2 separate regions of the Homo sapiens genome follow, and region 1 is linked to region 2. Evidence: fine-mapped expression QTL. Tissue or cell type: whole blood. Region 2 holds a variant in brackets; the other region holds the start of a gene. All regions are shown on one strand. Distances are between the middles of the regions.

What was found. PIP is the estimated chance that this variant, and not a neighbour inherited with it, causes the effect.
Region 1: BID starts here. The variant in region 2 is fine-mapped to the expression of BID in whole blood (INTERVAL, PIP 0.99).

What each region holds. Positions count from the first base shown.
Region 1 is chr22:17,770,010-17,778,185 of GRCh38, reverse strand. BID (BH3 interacting domain death agonist) reads left to right here and starts at 3,717. Exons shown (of 6, transcript NM_001196.4): 1 at 3,717-3,805. It overlaps LINC00528 (long intergenic non-protein coding RNA 528), which reads right to left and starts at 896. Exons shown (of 1, transcript NR_103718.1): 1 at 1-896. RefSeq lists enhancers at 382-861, 6,249-6,388 and silencers at 3,589-3,688, 3,709-3,758, 3,779-3,848, 3,879-4,208.
Region 2 is chr22:17,702,300-17,710,478 of GRCh38, reverse strand. It overlaps BCL2L13 (BCL2 like 13), which reads right to left. Exons shown (of 7, transcript NM_015367.4): 6 at 8,093-8,179. Among named protein-coding and RNA genes, the nearest start is that of MIR3198-1, 58 kb to the left of the region's middle. RefSeq lists enhancers at 4,047-4,096, 4,117-4,166. The variant TC/C (reference allele first, on the strand shown) is at 3,297.

The DNA of each region.
Region 1 (8,176 bases), 68 kb before region 2:
TGGGGGGACAAGATGGGGGTGACGCCTCCCGAGACCGGGAGAGGAAGGCCACCTGGCGAAGCTGCAGTCCCAGCATTATCTGTATGTTAAATTGATGTTTTAAATCAGAGTTGATATCCAAGTAATTAAAGAATAACTAACAAGCACAGGGACTAGTGAGGGGCTGGGCCAGATTCTCTGCAACCCATATGGCTTCACCTACTTTCCAAACCCCCGGTTCTGTGAGGACCGAAAATGACCATCCCAGACTATTCCAGAAACAGCCTGGGGATTCTGAAAGTTTCCCAGAGCATAGGCAGTGAAAGAGAGAGAAGCTCAGCCCTTCTGGAGGGGACGGGTGGCTCAGAACAGAAGGTGGAAAGGGAGAGAAGCTCAGCCCTTCCAGAGGGGATGGGTGGCTCAGAGCAGAAGGTGGGGATGCAGTTCTGGGGGCGCCATGGCCGAGCACCACAGACCCGGGACTTGCACAACAGAAGCGGGTTTCCTCACAATTCTGAGCCGGAAGGCGGAGATAAATGCGTGGGCACGGCTGGGTTCCCCGGACGCCTCTCTCCCTGGCGCAGAGACGATGTGTTGTTCTCCCCGGGTCCGTTCCTGTGTGGGTGTCCGCGTCCCCATCAGGACACCAGTCAGATAGGAGGAGGGCCATCCAGTGACCTCACTTCACCTTAATCACCTCTGGAAAGTCCCTGTGTCCAAGCACAGTCACGTTCTGAGGTCCTGGGGGTCAGGGCTTCAACTTACGAATTTTGAGAGCATTCAAGTCAGCCCACAACAGTGGACTCTGAAATAATCTTTTAGGAACTGGACTCCTCAAGGACGCTTTAGAAAATGCCGGCCTCGTTCTGTTGCAAAGGGGTAACTGAGGAAGAGGGGCTGAATTTTCACAGGAAGACGAGCCCGGTGGCAGGAAGTGACAGTGAGAAACTGCAGCATAAAGCGGAAGCAAAGGCCGACTGTGACTATGTGGTCGCCAGCTCGCCTTCCCCGTCAAACCTTGCTGGATTTTGTGTTTCATTTTCATTGCCAAAAACATCATTCAGGTCGGGTGCAGTGGTTCATGCCTGTAACCCCAGCACTTTGGGAGGCCGAGGTGGGAGGATTACTTGAGCCCAGGAGTTCAAGACCAGCCTGGGGAACATAGCAAGACCCTGTCCCAAAAAAAAAAAAAAAAAAAAAAAAAAAAGGCCAGGTGTGGTGGCACACGCCTGTAATCCCAGCACTCTGGGAGTCTGAGGCGGGCAGATCACCTGAGGTCAGGAGTTCGAGAACAGCCTGGCCAATATGGTGAAACCCCGTCTCTACTAAAAATACAAAAATTAGCCAGCCAATCATGGTGGTGGGTGCCTGTAATCCCAGCTACTTGGGAGGCTGAGGCTGGAGAATCACTTGAACCCGGGAGGCAGAAGTTGCAGTGAGCGGAAATCACACCATTGCACTCCAGCATGGGTGACACAGCCAGACTCCGTCTAAAAAAAATTTTTAAAAAATTAGCCAGGCGTGGCGGTGCATGCCTGCAGTCCCAGATACTTGGGAGGCTGAGGCAGGAGGATCACTCGAGCCTGGGAGGTCAAGGCTGCAGTGAGCTGTGATCACACCACTGCACTCCAGCATGGGTGACAGAGCTAGATCCTGTTTCAAAAAAAAAAATAAAGTCATCATTCTCTCATGTATGTGTATATTGTTTCATTTGTTAATTAAGGTATAATTTTACATACAGTAAAACTCACCATTCTTCGTGCAGAGTTCTCACAAAAGTGTACAATTGTGTGGCATCCACCACAATCCCTGTATAGAAGAATCCCATCATCCCCGGAATTTCCCTGGACCCTTCCATAGCCCCCCAGTCCGTCACCCCCTGAATTGTTTTCTGGCACCCCGCCCCCCTTTCTTTTTGAAGTGGTTGTTTTGCAGGAAACATCACCCTCTCTCATTTTACAAATACTGCAGACAGATTTTGAAGCCCAAAGCATCATAGAGGCAGCAGATCAGGACAGGGAGGATTGAGGCGGGGAGGCTCTACCCTGACTGTAAGAAGCACTTGAGAGACCTGCAAAAAGCCAACAGGAGAGGCAGAGACTGTGGGGGCCAATTGGTACAGGTCCTGCCCTGCATGACAGGGCCAGTGGCCCCCACAGTGCTGAGGATAAAATCCAACTGCTCATCCAGGCTGCTGGAGCCTCCTGCCTTCAGGCCACCCCACTGGCCTCTTGCCCACTGTGCCCCACTGTCCAAGCTCTCGCCTGCCCTGGGAGGGGCCCCTGCAGCTTCTTGTGCCCAGGTGCACGTCCCTCTCTTTTCCCATCTGGGCGCCTGCTGACATTGTACCATGAATTTGAACACCACCCTGCAGATGACCTGGCCTCAGTCCATGAAGTTTCCCTTTCGTCTTCTGCAGGGCACCGGCCCCTAATGCCATCTGACGGTTTCCCTGCTCACAGGATCTTCCATTTGTTAGCCCCCCAGAGTGCCCAGCCCGAGTGAAGAGCATGCAGGAAACAAGCCCCTGTCCTCGTGGAGGCTACATTCCGAGAGGGGAGGTAGGCAACACACACACAAACGACTCCGTGGTATGTCATGCTGCGATGCTGGCTGTGGAGGAAAATGAAGTGAGGCCTGGTGAAAGCCAGAGGCCATGGGGCTGCCGAGGAGGAACAGGGACAGGGTAGGATTTGCTTAGAGCAGGGCAGGTCGCGTGGGACTCTGCGGGCCACTGAAAGGAACTTGGCTTTTATTCAGAGGATGTTAAAGCGTGAGTGACATCCTCTGACCTTTTATAAAAGAGGCAAGAGTCTAGGGAGCCCGGGTAGAAGTGAGGGCGTCTGGAGGAGCCACAGTGGGCTCAGGGAGTGAGCCCACGCGAGGGCGCAGAGCAACTGGACGCTCCAACAGGGCTGGTGGAAGTGCCGAACGGTGTGCATCACCTTGGAAAGCAGGCAGTTTTTAATACCATGAAGCTCGTCCAGCCCTATGATTCGCATTTCCACTCCTAGGTATCACACTCAAGAGAAGTGAAGACGCCCACAAAGGGCTCTGCAGCAGCACTGCCGGTGAGAGCTGCATCCGGGGATGCATGGACTGGCCTGTCATTCCAGCACCTTGGGAGGCCGAGGTGGGAAGCATCGCTGGAGCCCAGGAGTTCGAGACCAGCCTGAGACCTCCAGAGGTGGAGACCCCCCCCCCACCACCTCCACTAAAAACTGAAAAAGAAATTAGTTGGGTGTGGTGTGCGCCTGTAGTCCCAGCATTATCTATATGTTAAACTGATGTTTTAAATCAGAGTTGATATCCAAATAATTAAAGAATAAACAACAAGCACAGGGACTGGTGAGGGGCTGGGCCAGATTCTCTGCAACCCACATGGCTTCACCCACTTTCCAAACCCCTGGTTCCGTGAGGACCTAGAATGACCACCCCAGACTGTTCCAGAAACAGCCTGGGGATTCTGAATGTTTCCCAGAGAATCATTAGGAATTATCCCAGCGGCGCTGGAGTAAGTGGCCAACTTAAAGTTGGACGACACTGTCTGAAACAGTCGCGTAAGGGGTAAGGGTGGAAAGCCTGGTTCTCACTGCGCTGCCGGCTCCCCGCCCCGCTCCACAGCCCCGCGCCGGCGCGGGCTCCCCGGGTCCCCGCAAGCCGCCGGGGGCGGGCCGGGGCGGGCCGGGGCGGGCCCGGGCGTGGGGGGCCGAAGGAGGAAGCGCGCGGGGCGCCATAAGGAGGAAGCGGGTAGTCGACCGTGTCCGCGCGCCTGGGAGACGCTGCCTCGGCCCGGACGCGCCCGCGCCCCCGCGGCTGGAGGGTGGTGAGTGCACCCGCGCCCCTCCCGGGGTACGCGCCGAGCCCCAGCCCGTGACCCCTGCCTGCCGCCTGCCCCGGCGTGGAGCTCAGGGCCCGCCGCCCGCCCTGGGCCCGACCGCGGTGGGAGCCAGAGGAGGGGAGGCGGGGGGTCAGAGCCCCAGGCCTCAGCAGCGACCTGAGGGCCGGGTCTCTCCCGCCTCCCCTCCGCCCGGGCGCCCTCCTCGGCGCGGCCGGCAGGTCGGTGCTGAGGGTCGGGTCCGCCTCGGAGGCGGGGAAGGCTTTGTTGTGTCCTCTCCACGTGGCCTGGGGATTCAGGGGAGGGGTGCGGGGCGCGGGGAGGGGGAGGGGCCGAGGCCAGCCCCGGAGAGGAGAAAACCCGCGGGCCTGGCCGGGTGCAGGCCACCCTTGCCGGCGGATCGGAATCCCCGCCCACACCGTGGTCTTTCCAGCACCGCAGACACCTGCCGGCTCCTCCCGAGCGGAGCTCAGGGCTGACAAAGCGCGGTCAGAGCGGCCGCTTACTGGGGCTCGCCCGCTCCTTAGAGCACTGGCAATGATGTGCGGATCCTCGCTGCTGCTGCTGGGAAACTGTTGAGTGGCTGAATGACCCCAGGGGACCCTGGGAGAGCTCTGAAGCCCTCAGCCACCAAGTGGCTGGGCTGGCAAGGGTTCATTCATTCATTCAACAAATACGAATGTGCAGCGGTGCTGGGGTCATGATGGCTCGGTGGGCAGCGAGGGGCCGGGCCGGCTGGAGGAGCACAGTGCGGATTCTGTAAGTGGGCTGGGGGCTGGGCCTTCTGCGGCTGGACCGGCCTTCACCTGCAGGCAGGGTTGGGGCAGGTGAGGAGCAGATGGACCCACCCAGAGCTCTTCCACCTTCTCAGGCTTGCACCCCCTTCCTGGAGCCTTATCCACACCCTCAGTCCTCGCTCTCACTGTGGGGGAGCTGCAGAGGATGCGGTTTTTCCACATTCCATCTCCACCCACAGGAGGCTTTGAGATGGGGGGAGCTCTCCTGGGCCTGAATGTGTGCCGTCCTGGGGCCCTGCAGTCCCCTGGGAGTGATGACCGAGACCAGATTCCCTGAGCTGGGGTCTTAAGGGTGTGGGGAGCGCAGAGGGATCCTCTGGCATCAGGAGTTGAGGTAGACAGAGCTCCAGGGAGGCACTGCCGGGAGGACGACCCTGGCCAAGCCTCTGCCTGCGGCCCAGGGTGTGCGTCCCTGCCCCTTCTGCCCCTCTTGCCCAGGGAGGGAAGAGGAAATGCGGGGTCAGCAGTTCGTGGCTGGGGTTTAAAGGCAGGGATCTCCCAGGACGGGCACAGGGAGCATGAGGAAGCAGCTCGTGTCTCTGTTCATGAGATGTGAGAGTGGTGACTGAGACGAGGGGTGCAGAGACCTGCCGTGGCTGGGGCGAGGTGCTGTTAGTGCTTCTGAGGAGGTTGGGCAGGATAGACGGTGGCTGTCAGGTGGTCTCAAGGTTGTGCAGGAGCTTGCCAGAGAGGGAAGCGGGGCATGGCCCCAGGGTGGTATGGGGGATTCTAGGGGGAGGGTGCCTGGGTGGGAAGGGGTGTCGCATGCCCAGCTCAGAGGCCTTGCTTAGGGGTGCTCACAGGCTCGGCTGACGTGAGGATGCTGATCGAAGGAGCTGAGGGTCCCACTCATTTGCAAGGGGGAACTGTCTGCCCAGGAGCCCCAGCAGTGCCCAGGCCCCTGGACTGACAAGGATGGATGAGGGTGATGGAGGCGGATGGACATTTGACACTGGAGCCTGCCTTCCAGGCAGAAGGGCCGTGAGTCATCCTCTCTCCGGTGCCAAGTGGAGGGGCTGAGCAGGTCCTCGACGTGACCGAGGACTGTGCCCGTTTTTTCAGGGGACCCGGAGCGCTGGCTCTGGCTGTCAGCCCATGAGAGACCTCCCTGCAGAGCTGTGGCCTCTGGAAATGCTTCCTGTCGTTGACATCTGGTCACCATTCTCCAGCTGGGGCTGTGGAGGGCAGCACAGGCCTGGAGTGTCCCCGAGAGCAGCTGGGCGTCTGCCCCTGCCCACCCCACAGGGCCTCCCACTCACAGGGCCTAATTAGCAGCTCCATGGCTGCCATACCTGGCGGACCGCCCTCAGCGGCCACATATATCCTTGCCCCAAGCCAATGACAGGTCTGAAGAAGACACTGATGGAGCTGAAGCACAGGACAGAGACAAGCACCTGTGTGCCGGACGCTCACGGAGCACTTGATGTGTGCTGACTGGCTCACATCACGGTGGTCAGACGAGGGTAGCATCCCCATTCTCCAGATGGTGTAACTGAGGCAAGGAGAGGCTAAGTAACTTGTCCAAGGTCACACCCGAGGGAGTTGGACTTCAGGGTCTCAGCTCTGAGCATCAGGCACACTGCCCAGATTCCCCCTCCACATGTCACACCTGTTAGGCCACTGGGGGTAAGGAGCCTTTCTGTGGCCTCGCTCCCCTGTGAGCCCCTGGGAGGGAGGCAGCCCAGATTCCAAGGCAGCGAGTGACGTGTGTGGGAAAGGGGAAGCTTCCGGGGCAGGGGTTCAGAAACCTCGCAGTGGGGTTTTCCCCAAGAGCCACTGCTGGCAGGTTCCTACAGCCCCATCCAGCCCCAACACAGCCTGCCTCTTTTCCTTCCTCTTCCTCCTTTTCTCTTTCTGCCTGCGTTGGTCCAAAATGGGGAAGTTTCACATAAATGGCAAACAGGCCACAAAGCAGCTATTTCTGGAGGTGCTGCTGCCTTGCAGATTGAATTCTTGGTTGGCATTTTAGGTGTTTGTTTTCAGGATCCTTTTCTGTAGAAGAAGCCAACAACTAAGAAAAGGAGGAAGTGGCTTTGGGAGGCTGAGACGGGAGGATTGCTCGAGCCCGGGAGGTCAAGGCTATAGTGAGCTGTGATTGCACCGCCGCACTCCTTGAATCCTATCAGCTTGGCCAGGGTGGGGGTGGGAAGTGGGGTCTTAAAGGGGAAAGACCAGCCGGGCGCGGTGGCTCACGCCTGTAATCCCAGCACTTTGGGAGGCCGAGTTGGGCGGATCATGAGGTCAGGAGATCAAGACCGTCCTGACTAAGACGTTGAAACCCCGTCTCTACTAAAAATACAGAAAATTAGCTGTGCGTGGTGGGGGGCGCCCATAGTCCCAGCTACCTGGGAGGCTGAGGCAGGAGAATGGTGTGAACCCGGGAGGTGGAGCTTGCAGTGAGCCGAGATCGCGCCACTGCACTCCAGCCTGGGGGACAGAGCGAGACTCCGTCTCAAAAAAAAAGTGGGGGAAAGATCACCATCTGGATCATAGACCAGACCTGAAAGGGGGCTGGTCACTTTTAGGTACGTAGAGTAACTGGAAAGACACACTGTCCTAGTGGAAGCCGTGGGTGGCCTCTGTGGCTGCTGTGGCCCCAGGGGAGGAGATACCTGTCTTCTGGGGCTGCGGCTCAGTCTGGCTCCGGGTCCGGATCACCAGGGAACTTTCTGCAGAGCATCCTGCCTGGGCTTTGCCTGGTCTGCATGGGATCCCCCAGCCTGTGGCTCAGCCCGCTTCTATGCTCATAGCCATGCTGGCGCCGGGGGCAGTCCTTGGCTTCCCTCCTCGTTGGCTTAACAAACCCCCTTTCTTCAGAGGAAGGAAAGTGTGCCGTGGCCTGGTGGGACAGGCTGGGCTTGGAGGTGCCAAATGTCCTGTGTGCTTGGGGACAGCTGCTGAACCTCCCCGCCGCCGTCACGGCCCTTGGCCAAGAGCTTTCATCCAAGGCTGGCAGTAGTTGCTCTATTTCTGTTATGGGGCACCTCTGCATCTGGGTTTGGTTTAATTTGTGTAACTGAATGTCTCATTTTATTCCTCACATTCATTCTGTGAAGTTTCCCTTGTCTGGGTGAGTGTTCAGGTGACTACAACCCTGGGTCCGGGATGGGCGGTGTTCCAGGAGCTTCTGCTTGGGCCTCTCCCATTCTCCCCCAAAACCAAAGAGAAGGGAAAACCCTTTGTAAGTGGATGTCACATGTCAGGTGCTTTTTCTGATACTGCATGTGATCCCACAAGGCAGGGAGTGTCCCCTTTTACAGACGGGGAAGGTGAGATCACATTGCAGGTTCAAAGCCCGACATGACCTGTCCACCTTTACAGCTTCCCTCTCTGGGCTGGGAGTGCGTGAGGGCTTCTTAAAATGCAGATGGACTTGGGGGATTGAGCTTCTCTGGGGTTCTGGTGTTTTTGTAGGGAGAGCCATCTGGGGTCAGGGCTGGGGTGGGGACAGCAGGAGAACAGGACAGGAGTGGCAACCCAGGGCCAGGGAAGGGAGTAGGCAGGGGTAGCATATGGGGGTGGAAAGAAAGGGGCCAGTGGCACGAAGGGCCCTGGGAGGCAG
Region 2 (8,179 bases):
CCTCCGGAGCAGCTAAGATTACAGGTGTGCGCCACCATGCCCGGAGAATTTTTTTTTTTAATTTTTAGTAGAGACAGGGATTCACCATGTTGCTGGTCTCAAAGTCCTGACCTCAAATGATCTGCCTGCCTCGGCCTCCCGAAGTGCTGGGATTACAGGTGTGAGCCACTGCACCCGGCCAATTCAGATTAAATAGCTTTATGTCTTGCTGTCATGGCCTCCCTACCTTACAATGTATTTCTGTATTTAGGACGTGACATTTTAATGAAGATTCACTGAACATTCTGTGCTGTTATGTAAGAAGTCTTACAAGAAAGAACAGATTACTAAGCTTTTACTCCTGGGGACCAATTCACATAAAACAAAAATATAAAAATAGCAGCCTCTTTTTTTTTTTTTTTTTTTTTTTTTAAGACAAGGTCTTACTGTTACCCAGGCTGGAGGTCAGTGGCGCAATCTTGGCTTACTGCAGCCTTGACCTCCCAGGCTCAAGTGATCCTCCTGCCTCAGCCTCCTGAGTAAATGGGACCACAGATTACTTCCAGTTAATTTTTATATTTTTTGTAGAGATGGGCTCTCACTCACCATGTTGCCCAGGCTGGTCTTGAGCTCCTGGACTTGGGCAATCTGCCTGCCTCGGCCTCCCAAAGTGCTGGGATTACAGGAGTGAGCCACTGCACCCGGTCAATGTTTTCTTTTGTTTTAATAGCACTCTGTTGCCTAGGCTGGAGTGCAGCAGCACAATCTCAGCTCCTGGGTTCTGCAACCTGGGTTCAAGAGATTCTCCTGCCTCAGCCACCTGAGTAGTTGGGATTACAGGAACCCACCACCATGCCTGGCTAATCTTTCTATTTTTTATTTCATTTATTTATTTATCTTTCCTGAGACAGAGTCTCTCTCTGTTCACCCAGGTTGGAGCGCAGAGGCACAATCCTGGTTCACTGCAACCTCCGCCTCCTGGGTTCAAGCAATTCTCCTGCCTCAGCCTCCCGAGTTGCTGGGACTACAGGCATGCACGACCATGCCTGGCTAATTTTTGTATTTTTCATAGAGATGGGGTTTCACCACGTTGGCCAGGCTGGTCTCGAACTCCGGACTTCAGGTGATCTGCCCACCTTGGCCTCCCAAAGTGTTGGGATTACAGGCGTGAGCCACCACGTCCAGCCTCAGTTTTATATTTTTGAGACAGGGTTTTGCCATGTCACCGGGCTGGAGCCTCTTTTTTTTGTTTTGTTTTGTTTTTGAGATGGAGTCTCACTCTGTCGCCCAGGCTGGAGTGCAGTGGCGCAGTCTTGGCTCACTGCAACCTCTGCCTCCTGGGTTCACGCCATTCTCCTGCCTCAGCCTCCCGAGTAGCTGGGACTACAGGTGCCTGCCACCACGCCCAGCTAATTTTTTGTATTTTTTAGTAGAGACGGGGTTTCACCGTGTTAGTCAGGATGGTCTCGATCTCCTGACCTTGTGAGTCACCCACCTCGGCCTCCCAAAGTGCTGGTATTACAGGCGTTAGCCACCATGCTCGGCCGAGCCTCTCTTAATAATTAATGTCATAATGAAGAGCAGGCTTTCACTAAAAGAAAAAGAGCTGTTTTGGATAATATATTACTTACAACTTATCATATTAGAAGAATAATATCTACAAGTAGCCTCGGAACCATTCTAACAATCTAAATAGTTTTTAATACAAAATATTTGTGTTGTTGAGAGTATCTGTCTCTTTGGCTTCACTGACATAAAATGCAAAGGAGTAATTTCGAGGGCTCAAAAATATAAAACTCATGGGATAAACCATGAGTTTAAATATGCACAAAGAAGCAGAGAACTGCGTCTTTTTTGTTTTTGTTTTTAAATAAATGAAGCCAAAGGGTTTGAGTAACTTGCCCAAGGTCCCTTAGCTTGCTATGACAAATTGGATAGCAATAATAGGTAACCCTTATATAATTCTTATCATGTGCCCTTCTAAAGTCTTCACTTCATCTATTGAAACCTCACAACAATGCTATGAGAGGATTATTATTACTTCCATTTCACAGACATGGATACCAAAACAAGTAAAGAAGATAAGTAGTTTTCCCAAAGTAATAAAGCTGGGATTCAAGCCCAGGCAGTTTGCCTCCAGGGTCTGTATTTTTACCAACTATGCTGTCCTACCTCTTAGATGAAGTCCCTGATTGCTTTCTGGTGCTTTTCTGTCTGTAATATAGTACCTTTTGAGTTAATGGCCAGAAGTATTCATAGATAGAACATGTTATACTTGGTGTTTTTTTTCAAGCAAACACACAGATACATGCATTAAACTCTTCAATTAAAAAGGGAAGTAGAGAAGAAACCTAAGTAGATAAAAGGAATATAACAAAATAAATGTAAAATAAAATACAAATATAACTTTGCTTTGGTGGTAGGAACTAAGTAAAAAACTAAGTAAAGGAACGTATCAAAATAAATGTAAAATAAAATACAAACATAACTTTACTTTGGTGGTAGACCTAAGTAAAAATCAGGTTGACAATTGCTCAGAGACCTATTACAAAAATTGGCTGCATCATGATGTCTATATTGATTGTATTTTTTTGTTTCACTTTTTTTTTGGTGGGGGCAGGGGGTCACATCAGTTACAAATTATTCTGCCCCCTCAAGCAATATTTTACCTTCTGAGACACAGCTGCTGCTGAGCTGAGCTCCTATGAACTTAACTTTTCCATCTGAAGAAGCTTTGGCAAAATTCCAAAGCCCATCTACGTTGGTAAATTTTCTAAGGACTCATTTCCCTTAAGATTTATGCCAACAAACCTCTATCATTACTTCTCAGACTTTATATATATATCTGTCAAGAAAAAGAGCTGTTTTGGATAATACGTTAGTTACAACTTACATTAGAATAACATCTACAAGTAGTCTTAGAACGATTCTGACAATCTAAATCATTCTTCATATAAAATATTTGTATTGTTGGGAGTATCCATCTCTTTGGCTCCACTGACACAAAACACACAAAGGCTCCACTGACATTTTGTAACTTTGAGGGCTCAAAAATATAAAACTAGCCGGGATCAACCAGCTAGTTTTATATTTCTGAGGCCTCGAAGTCGCAAAATGGAAACAGATCACTGCTTTGGACCCTTATAACCAAATGCGCCTCTCAGATCATTATTAACCTAAAATAAGAAAATGGAGAGTGCTGAAGAAATTACAGAGAAGTAATTTTCCACCCAACTTGATGAGGAAGATCCACAAAAAACACATTTCAGAGTACAACACAGTAAACATCCACACCCACATATACAGCAGGCAGATTT[TC/C]CCAAAACAGTACTTACTCTTACTAAATTGATTTTAGCTGCAACCCACTTCATTAATTTCAGATCATCCCTGTGTGTCACCTCCCACAATATGAAAACTATTCTAACAAATTATTAACCTAAAAGCTTCCAAGAGATAGTCTTTAAATATCCTAGATTAAACAAACAAAAACCTATTCTAAAATCAGAAGCTTCATGTCAAGAGAAAATGACAAAGATTAATTTTATTCAAAATACTTAAATATTACAATAGACAGATGACATTCCCTCCAGTAATCTTTTATGGAATCTAAAAGTAAATCTTTCACAAGAAGTATTTATCATGTGACGACGGAGAAAGTAAAATACAAGCCTTACCACAGTGGACTTGCTCTGCCCTTTCCAGGAGACAGACAGACTTCTAACGTAGCAACACAAGCCCAGGAAATGAAAAGAGAATGAGGAGGGAGGGAGCAAGGATGACTCAGGGAGAATCACAGCACATGAACCAGTCTGTGCCCTCACCGGGCTGCAGGGCAAATAAAAGTCAAAACTGAAACTAAGAGGAAATGGTGATCAGACTTAAGGAGAGGGAAAAAAACCACACTCTTCAGAGACGCATGTGAAAACCTGGCATTTGTAAAAGTGTGACATTTTCACAAAACACTTTCACATCATTATTTTTGTGAGACAGAGAAGCTATTCTTCCCTTTTTGTAGTTGAAACTGAGGTTCAGAGAAGTTAAATGAATCCTTCCAAAACACAGGGCTAGTATTTGGCAGAGCTGGGGCAAGAAACAAATCTTGTGATTTCTAATCCTTTTCTCAGTTCATCATTCGCCGGGTAAAAAGGCAGAGTGAAAAAAAAAAAAAAACAAGGTAGAAAGAGAAAACAGGCTGGGCAAGGTGGCGCATGCCTGTAATCCCAGCACTTTGGGAGGCCAAGCGGGGAGGATTGCTTGAGGCCAGGAGTTTGAGACCAGCTTGGGCAACATAGTGAAACCTCTCTCTGCAAAAAATAAGCCAAGTGTGGTAGTGCATGCACACCTGTGGTCCCAGCTACTAGGGAGGCTGAGGTGGGAGGATCACTTGAGCCCAGGAAGTTGAGGCTGCAAATGAGCCATGATCATGCCACTGTACTCCAGCCAGGGCAACAAAGCAAGACCCTGTTTCTAAGTCCTAGCCATTTCTGTTAATAATTCAGAAAACAAAATATTATTTTTCTCCTTCAAATCTATATGTCCAAAGCCTGCCTGTTCCTAACTGACTATGTGCTATATCACTCCATTCATCCAACAGATTATGGCTGCTGGCACCACCTCCTCTGCTGCAGGTTTTCAAAAGTAGCTGCACCTTGAGAGGTAGGCAGTTTGTTTCACTTGATGTTGTGTTCAAGTGACTAATGACAAATACATTCCCCGTGGAAATCATACCACAGGCTTTATATAACAGACATGCGATATCATGTGGTCAAATGATTCTCTTCTGGAAGGGTTTTAAGAGCTGTCAATGTAATGTTCAGCACACAGTATCTTAAGGAGATTCATGTTGACAGCTTATGTCACAGGATACATTTTCACCAACTGGCATTAAAAAAAAAGCAATATCGGCCGGGCGCGGTGGCTCACGCCTGCAATCCCAGCACTTTGGGAGGCTGAGGCGGGTGGATCACGAGGTCAGGAGATCGAGACCATCCTGGCTAACACAGTGAAAACCCATCTCTACTAAAAATACAAAAAATTAGCCGGGTGTGGTGGCAGCCATCTGTAGTCCCAGCTACTTGGGAGGCTGAGGCAGGAGAATGGCGTGAACCTGGGAGGCGGAGCTTGCAGTGAGCCAAGATAGTGCCACTGCATTCCAGCCTGGGCGACACAGGGAGACTACATCTGAAAAAAAAAAAAAAATGCAGTATCTTGGGTTTTTGTTTGTTTGATACAGAGTTTCGCTCTTGTTGCCCAGGCTGGAGTGCAATGGCACGATCTCAGCTCACTGAAACTTCTGCCTCCCTGGTTTAAGCAATTCTCCTGCCTTAGCCTCCCAAGTAGCTGGTGTTACAGGTGCCTGCCACCACACCCAGATAATTTTTTTTTTAATCAATCAAAACCTTTAATGCTCAGTTTTCACAATCAAGTCTATCAAATTTCCAGATTTACAGCAAAATGTGCCCCCTAAAAAAGTGTACATTCTTCAGTTTCTCCTATACTTTTTTTTTTTTTTGCCTATCTTTCAAAACTGAGCACTGGGTATTTTTAACATAAGCCATGTCATATGTACAGTTTAACTATGTTTCAGGAATAAACAAAATTCATGATATTTTAGTAACTCACAGTGTATTTATAGAATGAAAAGTTCTCTATCAAAACACACTTTTCACTGGGAAAAATAAATAAAATAGACAAATGGATCTACACAAAGTAAACATTAACTTTGGTAGATTTCAGTGCAGTTCATAACAAGCATATTTGCCCTTATTCCCCCAGAGCTGCTCAACTAAGAATTTTTAAAATACTTTAACTGAGATTTTATTATGTTGACATTTGTTTCTCATTCCACATCATCTTCAGCCACACCCAGATGATTTTTGTATTTTTAGTAGAGATGAGGTCTCACCATGTTGGCCAGGATGGTCTCAAACTCCTGACCTCAGGTGATCCGCCTGCCTTGGCCTCCCAAAGTGCTGGGATTATAGGCATAAGCCACTGCACCCGGCCTAATATCTTAGTTTTAAACACAAGCAAATGGAGAGCTTAGACCGAACAATGTGAAATACAGATTGGACATTCAAATTTAGAGATAAAACACATTTGAAATATTAATGAAGGCCAGGTGCAGTGGCTCATGCCTGTAATCCCAGCACTTTGGGAGGCCTAAGTGGGTGGATCACTTGAGGCCAGGAGTTTGAGACCAGCCTGCCAACATGGCGAAGCCCTATCTCTACTAAAAATACAAAAAGTAGCTGGTCATGGTGGCACACACCTGTAATCTCTGCTACTCAGGAGGCTGAGGCACAAGAATAGCTTGAACCTGGGAGGCGGAGGCTGCAGTGGGCTGCAATTGCGCACTGCACTCAAGCCAGGATGACAGAGCAAGACTGTTTCAAAAAAAAAAGAAGTATTAATGAACTAGTTATCCATGCAGTAGATCTTTTCTTTTGGCACAGATACTGGAGTTGAGTAATATACTTACTTTCTCTGTAACCAATTACAATCACCAAACAAACCTTGATGTACTACATCATCATAAAACTGAAAGTTGAGAAGGGAGTGCATAATATTCCCTGCATTTTTCTTCCCTTGTTGTAAAGCACCATATGGGATAAATGGCAGTTAACCTGGGATGTCTCCTGGCTATCATACAAACCATACACTACAATAGCCAAAGGTTTTAAAAAGTACTTAAGTAGGAAGACAACAATAACAATAAATTGTCGCAATTCTTATTTTTAAGAACAGCTCAAAAAATATTTTTATTTTCCTAAGACAAATGTTCAGGATTTTATTCAGTAAGCATTTACCAAGCACGTAAACCTAGGATGTTCGATATTAGTATCCATAGTAATTAAATTTACATATTTTAAAAATTAACTCAAACCCTCAGATGCATAGTGGCTAAAAAACAATAATGAGTAGTATACTTTATGAAAAGTACTCTCTCTACAGAATCACTGACTGTTGGGCAAATTACAACAAATAAACTTAAAAACCATTTCTAGGCCCAAAGAAAGAAAGAGAGTCCGCATAAATGTCCAGGGGTCAATAATTACAACTTTTAGTCACCTACAATTGACAGAACTAAAGGGAAAATGGAAAATCTACCACCATAGTAGCAAATAGAACATGTCTCTCTTAGTAAATAATTAGACAAAATAATTGGAAATGACTGAAAGATTTAAAATACGTATTATTAAGACTGATTAAATGTAAATGGACACGTACAGACTTCTGCACCAACCATTAGAGAATACATGTTCTGAAACATACATAAAAATATACATGTGTGTATATACATATACATATGTGTGTGTGTGTGTGTATATATATATTTTGTTGTTGTTGTTGTTGTTGCTCTGTTGCCCAGGCTGGAATGCAGTGGTGCCATCTTGGCTCACTGCAACCTCTGCCTCCCGGGTTCAAGTGATTCTCCTGCCTTGGCCTCCTGAGTAGCTGGGATTACAGGCACATGCCACCAAGCCCAGTTAATTTTTTGTATTTTTTTGTACAGATGGGGTTTTGTCATGTTGACCAGGCTGGTCTTGAACTCCTGACCTCAGGTGATTCACCCACCTCAGCCTCCCAAAGCACTGGGATTACAGATGTGCACCACTGCACCCAGCCCTATATATATATTTTTTAAATTGATCATGATAGTAGGCTATAACTCAAGTTTCAATGCCACGATGGTCGTGCTTTCTGATGAAACAGAATTAAATTAGTAATTGAAAACAAAATTTTTAAACCTGTAAGTATTTAGAAATTAAAAAATACATTTCTAAGTAATTCAAGGGTCAAAGAACATATAAGGAAAATTTATAAACAACTGAACCAACTGAATAATAATAATAATTACATATCAAAAAGTACGGGATAGAGCACGGCACAGTGGTGGGCACCTATAGTCCCAGCCTGTGCTCTTGGCTATTCAGGACCTGAGGCAGGATCACTTGAGCCCAGGAGTTTGAGACCGAAGCCTGCCATGATAGTGCCAGCAATTAGACACTGCACTCCAGCCCGGGTAACACAGCAAGAACCCATCTCTTAAGAAAAACAACAAACCTAATTTTTTTTCAAGAAAATATTTTTAATATATAACAGCTCATACCCAGCCACCTTGCTGAATGATGTACTCTGCCGAATAGTCCTCCAGGTATGTCACGCCAAACTGCAGCAGTGCGCTCAAAGGTTCTTG